Linked DNA regions of Homo sapiens: region 2 is linked to region 1. The links come from fine-mapping of genetic effects on gene expression. Tissue or cell type: whole blood. Region 1 holds a variant in brackets; the other region holds the start of a gene. All regions are shown on one strand. Distances are between the middles of the regions.

What was found. PIP is the estimated chance that this variant, and not a neighbour inherited with it, causes the effect.
Region 2: AP1M2 starts here. The variant in region 1 is fine-mapped to the expression of AP1M2 in whole blood (TOPMed, PIP above 0.99).

What each region holds. Positions count from the first base shown.
Region 1 is chr19:10,620,937-10,629,037 of GRCh38, forward strand. It overlaps SLC44A2 (solute carrier family 44 member 2 (CTL2 blood group)), which reads left to right and starts at 4,617. Exons shown (of 22, transcript NM_020428.4): 1 at 4,617-4,734; 2 at 5,317-5,365; 3 at 6,786-6,859; 4 at 6,984-7,068. The coding sequence starts at 4,698. RefSeq lists an enhancer at 3,075-3,656. The variant C/G (reference allele first, on the strand shown) is at 4,625.
Region 2 is chr19:10,583,802-10,591,902 of GRCh38, forward strand. AP1M2 (adaptor related protein complex 1 subunit mu 2) reads right to left here and starts at 3,511. Exons shown (of 12, transcript NM_005498.5): 1 at 3,389-3,511; 2 at 113-269. The coding sequence starts at 3,430. RefSeq lists a silencer at 7,179-7,379.

The DNA of each region.
Region 1 (8,101 bases):
GCTGAGGCGAGAAGATCATTTGAGCCTAGGAGGTTTAGGCTGCAGTGAGCTATGATTGCTCCACTGCATTCCAGGCTGAGTGACAAAGCAAGACTCTATTTGATAATAACAACAAAGAGAAAGTCATAGGGGTCAGGTATAGTGGCTCATGCCTATAATCCCAGCACTTTGGGAGGCCAAGGTGGGCAGATCACTTGAGGTCAGGAGTTCGAGACCAGTAGTAGAGACATGGTAAAAGCCAGTCTCTGCTACTAAAAATACAAAAATCAGCCAGGCACGTTGGTGTGTGCCTGTAGTCCCAGCTACTTGGGAGCCTGAGGCAGGAGAACTACTTGAACCCGGGAGGTGGAGGTTGCAGTGAGCCTAGATGGCACCACTGCACTCCAGCCTGGGCGACAGAGCGAGACTCTGCCTCAAAAAAGAAAAAAAAAATGAAAGAAAGAAAAGAAAAGGTCATAGGACAGAGAGGAAAGGGATGGTTGGGTGTTTTTTTTTTTTTTTTTTTGGTTTTTGTGGGTTTTCTTTTAGATGGAGTCTTGCTCTGTCACCCAGGCTGGAGTACAGTGCCAGGATCTTGGCTCATTGCAGCCTCGACCTCTTGGTCTCAGGTGATCCTCCCACCTCCACCTCCCAAGTTGCTGGGACTACAGGTATGTGTCACCACACCTGGCTAATTTTTAATTTAATTTATTTATTTTTGAGACGGAGTTTCACTCTTGTTGCCCAGACTGGAGTGCAATGGCATGATCTCAGCTTGCTGCAACCTCCGCTTCCCAGGTTCAAGCGATTCTCGTGCCTCAGCCTCCCAAGTAGCTGGGACTACAGGCATGCACCACCTCGCCCCGGCTAATTTTTGTAGTAATAGAAACAGGGTTTCTCCATGTTGGTCAGGCTGGTCTGGAACTCCCGACCTCAGGTGATCTGCCCACCTTGGCCTCCCAAAGTGCTGGGATTATAGGCGTGAGCCACTGCGCCTGGCCTCACCTGGCTAATTTTTGTACTTTTAGTAGAGATGGGGTTTCACAGTGTTGCCCAGGCTGGTCTCGAACTACTGGCCTCCAGTGATCTGCCTGTCTCAGCCTCCCCAAGTGCTAAGATGACAGGCTTGAGCCACCACGCCTTGCCAAGGTGATATTTCAGGCAAGGCCTGAAGGCAACGGAGCTGTATGGATGTCTGAGAGAAGAGCATTCTAAGCAGAGGGACCGAGCAGCTAGTGCAAAGGCCCTGAGGTCAGACCATGCCTGCTGAGCGTGGGACGTACCCAGGAGGCCAGTGAGGCTGAACAGAGTAAGCCATGGAGAGAGAGAGGGAGGAGGTGAGGGCAGGGAGGTGACAGGGCAGGTCATGCAAGGCTTTGTGGGCTGTGGCGAAGAGCTGGGCTTTTTCCTCGGAATGAGGTGGGAACCATGGAGGTTTCTGAGCAGAGCAGGGATGTGTCCTGACTTAGGTGTGCACAGATGTCTCTGGCCGCTATAGTGAGGATAGAAAGTGTCTGTGTTGGTCCAGGCAGGAGATGACAGGGCTGTGTGAAAGGGTGGGTGCTTGAGGAGCAGGTGAGAAGAGGTTGGATTCTGGATAGCTCTGAAGGCAAAACTGATCTCAAGCAGAGAGGCAGCCCAGGTTCCTGGCCAGAGCACGTGGGAGGATGGAGCGGAGTCATGGGATAATCAGAAGCTTGGACAGGCCAGGCACGGTGGCTCACACCTATAATTACAGCACTTTGGGAGGCTGAGGTGGGAGGATCCCTGAGGCCAGGAGTTCCAGACCAGCCTGGGCAACATTGCGAGACCCTGTCTCTACTAAAAATACAAAAAATTACCTGAGTGTGGTGGCGCGTGCCTGTGATCCCAGCTACTCAGGAGGCTGAGGTGGGAGGATCGCCTGAGCCCAGGAGGTCAAAGCTACAGTGAGCTGTGATTATGCCACTGCATTCCAGCCTGGGCGACAGAGTGAGACCCTGTCTCAAAAACAAAAAAGCTTAGATGCCGCCGCACTGAGTATGAGATGCTCACGTGTGTTGGGGGGAGACAGATGTCACATAGGTGTGCAGCTCAGAGACAAGGGTTTCCAGAGGGCTTAACTTTTGGGACTCCTCAGTGTGGAGCTGGTGGGTGGGGCCTGAATAAATTGTCCCCAGGGCACCCTGTGTAGTTGGGAAGAGAAGAGGCCTGTGGCTCGCTCTCTTTGTCCACTGCTTGGAATGGGTAGGGTGGGACCAGCCAGCCTTTGGGCTGGCAGAGACTTCGAGAACCACAGGGCTTCTTTAGGAGTCTGGGTCACCCCAGGGCATGACCTGGCGCCTCAGGCCTTGCCTGTGGTCCAGGTGTTTAGACAGGGCCCCTCTGCTGGTGGCTACTAGGAGGAGAGGGCGCCTTTTTAAGGATAAGTTGAGTTAGTGACCAGAGCCCTGCCTGCGAGTCCTAGAGTCTAAGGCAGCAGCTACAATTATTGGACACCAAATGTATATGATCACGCTGACTGTATAACCTCATGCTGTCTGTGTACACCCAGCACTAAATGTATATTCCTGCTGAGGATACCTCCACACCACCTGTATAATGCCATGTTAACCAAATAATTGGCTGCACTATAAATATCTATAAATATTCAAGTAGAGGCAGGTTGTGGCGTGGTGACTCGTGCCTGCAATCCCAGCACTTTGGGAGGTTGAGGTGGGAGGATTGCTTAAGGCCAGGAGTTTGAGCCCAGCCTGGGTAACACAGTGAGATCCTGTCTCTATTTTTATTGTATTGTATTTTTTTTTTTTTTTGAGGCGGAGTCTCGCTCTGTCGCCCAGGCTGGAGTACAGTGGCATAATCTCGGCTCACTGCAACCTCTACCTCCCAGGTTCAAACGATTCTCCTACTTCAGCCTCCCCAGTAGCTGGGATTACAGGTGCCCACCACCACACCTGGCTAATTTTTGTATTTTTAGTACAGACAGGGTTTTGCCTTGTTGGCCAGGCTGGTCTTGAACTCCTGACCTCAGTGATCTGCCCGCCTCGGCCTCCCACAGTGCTGGGATTACAGGCATGAACCACCACACCCGGCTAATTTTTGATTTATTGATTGATTGATTTTTTGAGACACTCGCTCTGTCACCCAGGCTGGAGTGCAGTGGCACGATCTCGGCTCATTGCAACCTCCGCCTCTCGGGTTGAAGTGATTCTCCTGCCTCAGCCTCCCAAGTAGCTGGGACTACAGGTGCACACCACAACATCCAGCTAATTTTTGTATTTTTAGTACAGACGGGGTTTCACCAAGTTGGCCAGGATGGTCTCGATCTCTTGACCTCATGATCCGCCCACCTCGGCCTCCCAAAGTGCTGGGATTATAGGTGTTAGCCACCACACCCAGCCTATTTTCTTTTTTCTTTTTCTTTTTGGAGACAGAGTCTCACTCTGTCCCCCAGGTTGGAGTGCAGTGAGGCAATCTTGGCTCACTGCAACCTCCACCTCCTGGGTTTAAGCGATTCTCCTGCCTCAGCTTCCCAAGTAGCTGGGATTACAGGCATGTGCCACCACACTGGCTAATGTTTGTATTTTTAGTAGAGAAGGGGTTTCACCATGTTGGCCAGGCTGGCTTAGAAATCCTGATCGACCTGCCTCAGCCTCCCAGAGTGCTGGGATTACAGGCATGAGCCACTGCACCTGGCCTATGCCTGCTCTTTGAGGTCAGTTTTGGTTTCATACTTTAGCCTCATTTTGCAGTTGAGGAAACTGAGGCTTAAGGAAGATAAGCCCTTTGTTAAGTATCCTCTAGTTCAGAGGGTGCAGAAGGAGCATTTGAATTCAGGGCGACCCAGGAGGATGTGGGCTCCACAAGGGTGGAGATTGGGTCTCTCTGGTTCCTCACTGTATGCGGTGCCCCGCCCAAGGCCTGCACCCACTAAGGGCTGAATAAATACTTGTTCTAAGACCAGGCCCAGTAGTGCACGCAGGTAATCCCAGCACTTTGGGGGGCCACGGTGGGAGGAGCCCACGAGTCCAGGAGTTAAAGATGAGCCTGGGCAACATAGCAACATCCCATCTCTACAAAAAAAATTAAAAATTAGCCGAGTGCAGTAGAGCACCTGTAGTCCCAGCTACTCAGGAGGCTTAGTCAGGAGGATGGCTTGAGGCAGGGAGGTCGAGACTGCGATGAGCTGTGATTGCACCACTGCACTCCAGCCTGGGCAACAGAGGGAGATCCTGTCTCAAAAAAAAAAAGCAGCAGACAGAAAGAAAACTAATTTCCTGCACAGCTTGGAGAAGTTTTCAGCACCAACATTCCACAGTTGGTTGTCTGGGTTTGGGCAGTAGGCCGTTTTCCCTCCCAGTGCCTCAGTTTCCACACCTGCAAAACGAAGCCACGGAAACGCCCTTTCAGGGTGGCCAGGGGTTCTAGGCGGCATCGCCCGGTGGCAGGGTGTTCCCAGGGTGAAGCCGCAGGGTTCCCGGGTGGGGGCGGGGAAGGCTAAATGCGGCCGGCCGGTGAGTGGCGGGAGCAGCTGCAGCCCCGCCCGCGCCCTCCCGGGTCCCTTAGTCTGGGCAGCTGCCCAGCTCGGGCCGGTCTGACCGGTTTGGGCCGCCCCGCCTGGCGCTGTGCTGGGAGGAGCCGCCGCCAGTCGCGCGGTCAGTGCCTC[C/G]CTCCAGACTCGGGAGGGTCGAGGGGGCGCGGGAGAGAGCGCGGGCGGCCGCCGGGGCTGGTCGCCTGCAGGGATGGGGGACGAGCGGCCCCACTACTACGGGAAACACGGTAGGCAGCGACCCCCGCCCGTAGCCCCGGGCCGACCCCTCGGTCCCTCGGAGGGGGCCTTGAGAGAACATGGGGCGCAGGGAAGGGGGCTGGAGGGGGAGCGCAATTGCAAATCTGCGCCTGGAGCCTCCCCACCATCAGCCAGGCCCCTTCACCCCACTTATCCCCCGCAGCCTCGCAGACGACCCTCCTTACTCTCCCCTACCCGAAGGACCTGCCCCTGTACCCCTCTGCCTGGCACTGCTGCCGGCGCCTCCTTCCCCCTATCCCACCTCAGATCTTCCCCATCTCCACCTGGTTCCGTGGTGGTCACCATTTCAGCCCTCTTCCCAGTGGGTGGCCGCCAGTTAATAAGTTTGTTCACAGTTAGTGATCCCTCCTTCCTCCCCTGTCCTGGCCTGCCAGAACTGGGGGCTTGGGTGTGGTCACCTGGAGGTGGGTGAGGCAGAAAATTCCACAGGTCTCTGAATTTTATTCTTGCCAAGGCAAAGACACCCCTAGGGGCTTTTGGGAGGGGGCTCTCCCAGCCCTGTCTTGGTTCAGGTCTCCAATCCCATCCATCTTAATCTTCTTGACTTTCAGGAACGCCACAGAAGTATGATCCCACTTTCAAAGGACCCATTTACAATAGGTAAGAGCTCTGGGTTTTGGGGGGTTCTCCCCGCTAATACTACCCCAATCCCTGTCTCTTCACACCCCCTCCCATCTGTTCTCCAACAAACTGGTGACAAATATTTGAAACTTTTTTTTTTTTTTGAGATGGAGTCTTGCTCTGTCACCAGGCTGGAGTGCCGTGGCGCGATCTCAATCTCGGCTCACTGCAACCTTCGCCTCCCGGGTTCGAGCAATTCTCCCACCTCAGTCTCCCAAGTAGCTGGGATTACAGGCTTGCACCACCACACCTGGCTAATTTTTTTTTTTTTTTGTACTTTTAGCAGAGATGTTTCGCTGTGTTGCCCATGCTGGTCTCGACCTCGTGAGCTCAAAGCGATCCACCTGCCTTGGCCTCCCAAAGTGCTGGGATTACAGGTGTGAGTTACCACACCTGGCCTGGACTTAATTTTTACCATGTTTATATTTATTTATTTATTTATTTATTTTTGAGATGGAGTCTCACTCTGTCACCCAGGCTGGAGTGGTGCAATCTCAGCTCACTGCAACCTTCCCCTCCTGGTTCAAGCACGTCTTCTGTCTCAGCCTCTCCAGTAGCTGTGACTACTCAGAGGCTACTCAGAAGGCTGAGGCAGGAGAATTGCTTGAATCTGGGAGGTGGAGGTTGCAGTAAGCTGAGATTGCGCCACTGCACTCCAGCCTGGAGGACAAGAGCGAGACTCTGTCTCAAAAAAAAATAACAAAAAAATAAAATACAGCCAGGCACGGTGGCTCACACCTATAATCCCAGCACTTTGGGAGGCCAAGGCAGGTGGATCACTTGAGGTTAGGAGTTCGAGACCAGCCTGGCTAACATGGTGAAACCCTGTCTCTACTAAAAATACAAGAATTAGCTGGGCATGGTGGCGGGCACCTATAATCCCAGCTACTTGGGAGACTGAGGCAGGAGAATCGCTTGAACCTGGGAGGTAGAGGTTGCAGTAAGCTGAGATCGTTCCACTGCACTCCAGCCTGGGCGACAGAGTGAGATTCCCTCTCAAAAAAAAAAAAAAAGTCTAGCTTGGGCAACATAGCGAGACCTTGTCTCTACAGAATGTATATAAATTAAAAAAAAAATGTGTGGTGGTGTGCACCTGTAGTCTCAACTACTTGGGAAGCTGAGGCAGGAGGATCACTTGAGCCCAGGAGTTCGAGGCTGTAGTGAGCTATGATCATGCCACTGTACTCCAGCCTGGATGACGGAGTGAGACTCTGTTGCACAAAATTAAAAAATGAAATGAAATAAAAATTAAAATGCATGTGCCCTTTGGTACGGCATTCAAACGACTCAGGAAAATTTGTCCAAATAACACATGGATGAGGGTGTTTGCAGAGGGCAGATGGGCCCATGGTGCACACAGCACCAAGCCTCCTCCAAACACTGCCCCTCTGCTCCCCAGGGGCTGCACGGATATCATATGCTGTGTGTTCCTGCTCCTGGCCATTGTGGGCTACGTGGCTGTAGGCATCATAGGTGAGTAGAGAATGAGCAGGACTTGGAGTTGCAGGGTAGGCGGAGGCAGCCATGGCCTCTGGAGTGGGAACAGGGCTGGATCTGAGGAGTGGCAGTGTCTCAGTATCCCTGGATCTTTCCACAGCCTGGACTCATGGAGACCCTCGAAAGGTGATCTACCCCACTGACAGCCGGGGCGAGTTCTGCGGGCAGAAGGGCACAAAAAACGAGTGAGTTGACTCCTTGCGGCCTGGTGGGGCTGGGGAAGAGGGGGCAGAAGATTCTAGGCATTCCCCATCTCTCTAAGTCCAGTTAACAAGTGCTTATAGGCTGGGCGCGGTGACTCACGCCCGAAATTCCAACACTTTGGGAGGCCGAGGCAGGAATATTGCTTTAGGCTAGGAGTTCGAGACCAGCCTGGCCAACATGGCAAAACCCCGTCTCCACTAAAAATACACAAATTAGCCAGGCATGGTGGCACATGCCTGTAATCCCAGCTACTCAGGAGGCTGAGGCAGGAGAATCACTTGAACCACAGGAGGCAGAAGTTGCAATGAGCCGAGATCGTGCCACTGCACTTTAGCCTGGGGCACAGAGTGAGACTCTGTCTCAAAACAAACAAGCAAAAATTAAGTGGACGTGGTGGGGCACACCTCTAGTCCCAGCTACCCAGCAGGCTGAGGTGGGAGGATAGCTTGAGCTGGGAGGCCAAGGCTGCAGTAAGGTATGATTGTACCATTGCACTCCAGCCTGGACGACAGAGCGAGACCTGGTCTCAACAAAACAACAAGAAAAGAAAACAAGTACTGATAAACGTCCCACTACCCTCAGCCACTAGTCTAGTCCTTGGGGACACACAGCTCTAAATGAGATAGTAAGCATCCTGTTCTCTGGCAGCACACATTTTAAGGGCGGGAGAGACTGAGAGGGGACAGTCCTGGATTACGCGTCAGGTGGTGATGAACAGGTGAGACAACAGAGCAAGCATAGCCTGAGTGGCGTCACTTCCTGGCTCTGTGACCTAGGGCAGGTGTCTCAATCTCTCTGAACCTCGTTTTCCTCATCTCTAAAATGAGGATCATAACAGTCCCACCCTCATGGGGCTATTTTGATGGTTAGATGTGCCAATACATGTACAGAGCTTAGAATGCCACCTGGCATCGCTGGGCGTGGTGGCTCACACCTGTAATCCCAGCACACTTTGGGAGGCTGAGGTGGGAGGATCAAGACCAGCCTAGTCAACATGGTGAAACCCCGTCTCTA
Region 2 (8,101 bases), 37 kb before region 1:
CAGAGATGTGCGGTGCAACTCCTGTCCTCAGCCCACCCTCTCTTGGCCTGAGCTGCCACCATCGCCGACAGCCCCCACACCCACCTCCAGGGACACCACGTGGGGTGGATACAGTAGAGGTTGCTGTGTTTGATCCATAGGAAGTGGACCTGGCCGTGGCTCAGCAGCGGGGCCAGGGCGCCTTCCTCCTCCCGCTGTACCAGCAAAGGCATGAAGTGCTCAATCTTGCTCATGGCCACATCGCCCTTGTAGTTGCGGCTGATCAATGGCTGAGGGTGGAAGGAAAGGACCTGGTCACCACCAGCATCCAAGAACCTACCACGCTGAGGAGGCACAGTGCCCGGTTCTGACCCTACTTCCTAGCTGAGGGGCTTGGGCAAGGCTCTGCCTCCTTGTGCCTGTTTCCTGCTCTGTAAAATGGGAGTGTGATGACAACAGCTAATGGGTCTAGGGCCCTCACTAAGTGCCAGGCTGTGTTTTATTAAAGGGTAGGCGATGGCTGGACGCAGTGGCTCACGCCTGTGATCCCAGCATTTTGGGAGGCCGAGGCGGGTGGATCATGAGGTCAAGAGATCGAGACCATCCTGGCCAACATGGTGAAACCCCGTCTTTACTAAAAATACAAAAAATTAGCCGGGCGTGATGGCGTGTATCTATAGTCCCAGCTACTCGGGGTGCTGAGGCAGGAGGATCACTTGAACCTGGGAGGCGGAGATTGCAGTGAGCCGAGATCGTGCCACTGCACTCCAGCCTGGCGACAGAGCAAGACTCCATCTCAAAAGAAGAAAGAGAGAAAGAAAGAAAGAAAGAAAGTAAAGAAGGAAGGGAGGAAGGGAAGGAGGGAGGGTAGGAGGGAAGGAAGGAAGGAAGGAAGGAAGGTAGGCAGGCAGGCTGGCTACTAAAAAAAGAGTAGATGTTTACTAACTTATTAGTTCTTGCCACAACCCTGTGGGGTAGATGTTATCATCATCTCCATTTCACACAGGAGAAGTGAGGTTAGAAACCATGTCCACTGGAAGCATATGGAAACTGGGGATTGATCTAAGGCATCCTGGGTCCAGAATCCCTGCTGTTGCCCCAGACTTCATTTGCACCAAAGTGGGATTATTTAAAAAAACAACAACAACAAAAAAAAAAAACAAAGAAGAGGCCAGGTGCAATGACTCACTCATGAAGACCAAGGCAGGAGGATCCCTTGAGGCCAGGAGTTTGAGACCAGCTTTGGCAACATAGCGGGATCCCTCTACAAAAAATTTCAAGAATTAGCTGAGCATGGTGGCCTGCACCTCTGTAGTCACAGCTACTCTGGAGGCTAAGGCAGAAGAATCAATTGAGCCTAGGAGGTCGAGACTACAGTGAGCTGTGGTCATACTACTGCACTCCAGCCCGAGCAACAGAGTGAGACCCTGTCAAAAAAAGAAAGAAGAAAAGAAAGAAAGAAAGAAGGAAAGAAGGAAAGAAGGAAAGAAAGAAAGAAGAAAAAAAGAAAGAAAGAAAGAAAGAAAGAAAGAAAGAAAGAAAGAAAGAAAGAAAGAAAGAAAGAAAGAAAGAAAGATGACAGTTCATATGATTGTGCCTGGTAGTCAGGAAGACACCCATAATAGTAAACACTTCTGTCTGGACACGGTGGCTCACGCCTTTAATCCCAGCACTTTGGGAGGCTAAGGCGGGTGGATCATGAGGTCAAGAGTTCGAGACCATCCAGGCCAACATGATGAAACCCCGTCTCTACTAAAAATACAAAAATTAGCTTGGTGTGCTGGCGCATGACCGTAATCCCAGCTACTCAGGAGGCTAAGGCATGAGAATCACTTGAACCCAGGAGGTGAAGGTTGCTGTGAGCTGAGATCACACCAGCCTGGTGACAGAGCGAGACTCCATCTCCAAAAAAAAAAAAAATTAGTTAACCACTTCCTAAGGTTGTTTTGTCCAGTGTCTGAACAGGGAGGACCCATGGCAGGTTCTCAAACATCTTAGCTCTCACTATTAATATTAATGGGAATATTATTTTCACCACCACTCTTATTTTGGCTATTAAATGACAAGACAGGCTGACTGCAGTGGCTCACACCTGTCATCCGAACACTTTGGGAGGCTGAAGCAGGGGGATAGCTGGGGACCAGGAGTTCAAGACCATCCTGGACAACATAGCAAGACTCCATCTGTACAAAAAAATAAAAATAAAAAATAGGCCGGGTGCGGCCGGGCGCAGTGGCTCATGTCTGTAATCCCAGCACTTTGGGAGGCCGAGGTGGGCGGATCACGAGGTCAAGAGATTGAGACCATCCTGCCCAACATGGTGAAACCCCATCTCTACTAAAGATACAAAAAATTAGCCGGGCGTGATGGTGCGCGCCTGTAATCCCAGCTACTCAGGAGGCTGAGGAAGGAGAATCACTTGAACCTGGGAGGTGGAGGTTGCAGTGAGCCAAGATCATGCCATTGCACTCCAGCCTGGGTGACAAGGCGAGACTCTGTCTTGAAAAAAAAAAAAAATACAAAAATTAGCCAGGCATGGTGGCATGCACCTGTAGTCCCAGCTACTCGGGAGGCTGAGGCAGGAGAATTGCTTCAACCCGGGAGGTGGAGGTTGCAGTGAGCCAAGATGGAGCCACTGCACTCCAGCCTGGGTGACAGAGCAAGACTCTATTTAAAAAAAAAAAAAAAAAAAAATTAAAAATAGCCGGGCATGGAGGGGTCAGCCCGCAGCCCCAGATATTCAGGAGTTTGAGAGCAGCTTTGGCAACATAGCGGGATCCCTCTACAAAAAAATGTCAAGAATTAGCCAGGCATGGTGGCCTGCACCTGTGTAGTCACAGCTACTCCGGAGACTGAGGCAGGAGGATCGCTTGAGCCCAGGAATTCCAGGCTGCAGTGAGCTATGATCGCACCACTGCACTCAAGCCTGGGAGACAGCAAGAGACCCTGTCTCCAAAATAAAAAAAGACAAGAGGAATAAAAGGACTTCAGGAAGAGGCAAGGCAGCCACAGATGGGGGGAGTTAGAGGCCCCTGTTCCAGTTGCCTTCCCCAGGTATTAACACTGTGGATGCCGACAGTGATGGAGATAATTTCAATTTGCTGAGTCCCTAATATTTCCAGAAAGGCCACTATGCTAAGTAGTTTACACGCAGCGAGTTGTATTAATTCTCATTGGGTGGGGACCTCTGTTGCTCCCATTTTTACATACAGAGAAACTGAGGCCCTAGGAGGCGAACCCCTTGGCCTCAGGCACAAGGCGAGTGGATGCTGGAGGTGGGATTCCCAGGGATTGCAGGGGGAGGGGGTGTTCCCAGACCTCTTCCTGGCCCGCGCGGAGGGGTCGCCCCTGAATCCCTGGGAGCGAGACCTCACCTGTCCGTCTCCCAACTCCTCATGCCCAGCCTCACCTTGCCCTTAACGTCCAGAATGAAGACAGCCGAGGCGGACATGGTGGCGGCCGAAGGACTTAGGAGTCGGGGAGGGAGCGCCGGGAGGCGATGGCGGCGCCGCTTCCTTCTTCCTGCGGAAGCGCCTGCGCCCAGGTGAGAGCCCAGGTGTGTGCGTCTTAAAGGGGAGGCGGCCAGGTGAGCAGCGCTGTCGGCCAACTTGAAGATGGCTGCGGGGCCGGGAGAGGTACTGCGACTTCAGATGGGTCTGCTGCCCCCCTTCACTTTCCCTAGCCACCCAGGAGTAATGACGGGTGGAGACCCCAAACCAATCAACCATCCTTCCATCCATTCATTCATCCTTCCTTTCATTCATCTATCCATCCATTCGTCCATCCATCCATTCATTCTTGCATTCATTAATCCATCCACGCATCCACTCATTTAGCCATTCATTAATCCATCTTCCATCGATTCATTGATCCATCCTTCCATTCGTCATCCATTTCTTCATCCATTTTTGCATTCATTTATTTGTTCGTCTATCCATTATCCATTCATCCATCCATTTATTCATCCATTCATTCATCCCTTCTTGCATTCATTCATTTATTCATCTTTCCATTCATCCATCCATTCATCCATTCTAACATTCATCAATTTATTCATCTATCCATCCATCCATCCATCCGTTCATCCATTCTTGCATCATTAATTTATTCATCTATCCATTCATCAATCCATCCATCCATCCATTCTTGCATTCATTAATTTATTCATCTATCCATTCATCCACCCATCTATCCATTCATTCATCCTCTCATTGATTCATCCATCCATTCACCTTCTTTCTCCTCTGTCTCACCCACACACGTCAGCCCCCATACAGCAGGGACTTTGTCTTGTTCATGTTTATGTCCCTAGTGCTCAGCACTGGGTGCTCAAAATTTGCCCAATTCATTCATTCACTCATTCATATAATAATTTTCACTGGTGAATTTTACTGACTGAATTTGAAATATTCATTCACTCAGTAACAGGAACTGTGGATATAATTCCGAGCAGGACAAATGTACTTGCTTTTATTATTCTTACAAATTTACTCTTATTCATTTCAAATAAAAAATTTATTTTTTTTTGTTTTTTGAAATGGAGTCTCACTCTGTTGCCCATGCTGGAGTGCAGTGGAATGATTTTGGCTCACTGCAACCTCCACCTCCCAGGTTCAAGCAATCCTCCTGCCTCAGCACCCCTAGTAGCTGGGATTACAGGCAAGCGCCACCATGCCCAGCTAATTTTTTTTTTTTTTTAGACTCCAGGCTGGAGTGCAGTGGCATGATCTCTACTCACTACAACCTCCGCTTCCCGGGTTCAAGGGATTCTGCTGCCTCAGCCTCCCAAGTAGCTGGGATTACAGGTATGCGCCATCACGCCTGGCTAATTTTGTATTTTTAATAGAGATGGGGTTTCACCATGTTGGCCAGGCTGGTCTCGAACTCCCGACCTCAGGTGATCCACCCGCCTCAGCGTCCCAAAGGGCTGAGATTACAGGCGTGAGCCACCGCACCCAGCCAAAAAACTTTTTTTGTAGAGACAGGGTCTCACTCTGTACCCTAGACTGGACTGCAGTGATGCAATCATGGCTCACTACAGCCTCAACTTCCTGGGCTCAAGCCATCCTCCTGCCTCAGCCTCCCTAGTAACTGGAACTACAGGCACAAACCGCCACACCCAGCTAATTTTTTTTGAGACAGAATTTTGCTCTAGTTTACCAGGCTAGAGTGCAGTGATGTGATCTCGGCTCGCTGAAACCTATGCCTCCTAGGTTCAAGCAATTCTCCTGCCTCAGCCTCCCGAGTAGCTGAGATTACAGGCATGCGCCACCATGCCCGGCTACTTTTTTTGTATTTTTAGTAGAGACAGGGTTTCTCCATGTTGGTCAGGCTGGTCTTGAACTCACGACCTCAGGTGATCCACCCGCCTTGGCCTCCCAAATTGCTAGGATGACAGATGTGAGCCACTGCGCCTGGCCACAACTAGCTAATTTTTTTTTTTTTTTTTAATTTGGAGTCTCGTCCTGTTGCCCAGGCTGGAGTGCAATGGCACAATCTCGGCTCACTGCAACCTCTGCCTCCCAGGCTCAAGCGATTCTGCTGCCTCAGCCTCCCAAGTAACTGGGATTACAGGCGTGCACCACCAAGCCCAGCTAATTTTTTGTATCTTTAGTAGAGATGGGGTTTCACCATGTTGGCCAGGCTGGTCTCGAACTCCTGACCTCGTGATCCATCTGCCTTGGCCTCCCAAAATGCTGGGATTACAGGCGTGAGCCACTGCGCCTGGCCCACACCTAGCTGATTTTTTTTTTTTTTTTTGAGACAGAGTCTGGCTTTGTCGCCCAGGATGGAGTGCAGTGGCGCAATCTCTGCTCACTGCAACCTCTGCCTCCCAGCTTCAAGCAATTCTCTGCCTCAGACTCCCAAGTAGCTGGGATTACAGGCGCCTGCCACCACGCCCGGCTAATTTTTTTTTTGTATTTTTAGTAGAGACGGGGGTTTCACCATCTTGGCCAGGCTGGTCTTGAACTCCTGACCTCGTGATCCACCCGCCTCAGCCTCCCAAAATGCTGGGATGACAGGTGTGAGCCACCGCGCCAGGCCAGGCCCACCTAGCTAATTTTTTTTTTTCTTTGAGATGGAGTCTCGCTCTGTTACCCAGGCTGGAGTGCAATGGCGCGATCTCAACTCACTGCAAGCTCCGCCTCCCAGGTTCACACCATTCTCCTGCCTCAGCCTCCCGAGTGGCTGGGACTACAGGCGCCTGCCAACACGCCTGGCTAACTTTTTGTACTTTTAGTAAAGACAGGGTTTCACCATGTTAGCCAGGATGGTCTGGATCTCCTGACCTCGTGATCCGCCCGCTTCGGCCTCCCAAAGTGCTGGGACTACAGGTGTAAGCCACCGCACCCGGCCCGACCTAGCTAATTTTTACATTTTTTGTAGAGATGGTGTATCGGTATGTTGCCCAGGCTGGTCTCAAACTCCTGGGCTCAAGCGATCCTCCCCCCTTGGCCCTCCAAAGTACTGGGATTACAGGCGTAGTCTGAGCCACTGTGCCTGGTTTGTGCAGATTAAATGAGTTATTCTGTGCAACGTGGTGTTGGAAGGGAACTTGGATGTAGCTGACTGTCAACCATGTCGCTGAGAAGGAGGAGGATGAAGATGATGATCTGGATGATGATGTAGCAGTTGAGAGCACAGATGCTGGGTTTGATTTTTGATACCACCACACACTGGCTATAAGGCATGGGCTGGTGAATGCACCTGCTGTGCCTCAGTCTCCTCTTATGTTAAATGGGTATAACAGCCATGGTGCCCTCTCCTGCAGTTGCATAGCCAAATACCTGGCATGGCCCCTGGCTCCATGCATGTTTCGTGCACACCAGCTGCTGCAGACCCAGATTCCACCCCTGGACTTTCCTTTTTTTTTTCTTTTGAAATGGAGTCTCAGTCTGTCGCCAGGCTGGAGTGCAGTGGTGCGATCTCAGCTCACTGCAACCTCTGTCTCCTGGGTTCAAGCGATTCTCCTGCCTCAGCCTCCCAAGTAGCTGGGACTACAGGTGCACTCCACCATGCCCAGCTAATTTTTGTATTTTTATTAGAGATGGGGTTTCACCATGTTGACCAGGATGCTGTCGAACTCTTGACCTCGTGATCCGCCCACCTCAGCCTCCCAAAGTGCGGTAGTTTTGAGGACAGGGCAGAAGGAAAGGGAAAGTAAACCTCAGCCTTGCTTAGAACCACCTTGCTTGGCTGAGGGAGGGAGATGTCCTGCAGGGCCTGCAGGGAACAAGACTCAGCCTACCCAGACCTCACTTGTCCTTTCCCCAAACCCTGCCCAGCCCTTTATCAGCCCCTGTAGGTGGGGACTTAGAGAACAGCAGCTATCAGGATCATCCACTTGCCTCTCCACCTGAAATTAACATCAACATTGACAGCAGCACTGCACTTTAATTAAAACATTATCATCTGGGCCAGGAGCAATGTTTCATGCCTGTATCCCAGCACTTTGGGAGGCCAAGGTGGACAGAGCACCTGAGGCCAGGAGTTTGAGACCAGCCTGGCCAACATGGCGAAACCCTGTCTCCACTAAAAATACAAAAATTAGCCGGGCGTGGTGACGCATGCCTGTAATTCCAGCTACTTGGGAGGCTGAGGCAGAAGAATCACTTGAACTGGGGAGGCGGAGGTTATAGTGAGCCGAGATGGCACCACTGCACTCCAGCCTGGGTGACAGAGTGAGACTCCGTCTCAAGAAAATAAATAAATAGAATGAAAAATAAAAAGTTATCATCTGGCACAAGTCTCCTTCGTGCCATCTTATAAAGGTAGAAGCAGGGACACAGAGAAGTGAAGGCACCTGCCCAAGCCCACGGCCCCAGAGCCAGGAGGCAGTTGACCCAGAATTCGAATCTGAGTCCCGGGATTTAAGAATCTGGTCCCAGCCTGCTTCCGCCTGCTTTGCTATATTGCTGGATGCAAATATTACTATTAGTAACACTAACTCTGGCTTAAATGGTGCTCACCATAAGTGAGGGTGGCCCTAAATGTCGCCCATGCAGGAATCCTCAAGACAGCCCCTTGAATTACAGAAGCCTATTTTTTTTTTTTATTTATTTGAGACAAGGACTTGCTTTGTCGCCCAGGCTGCGGTGCAGTGGTGCAAACACGGCTCACT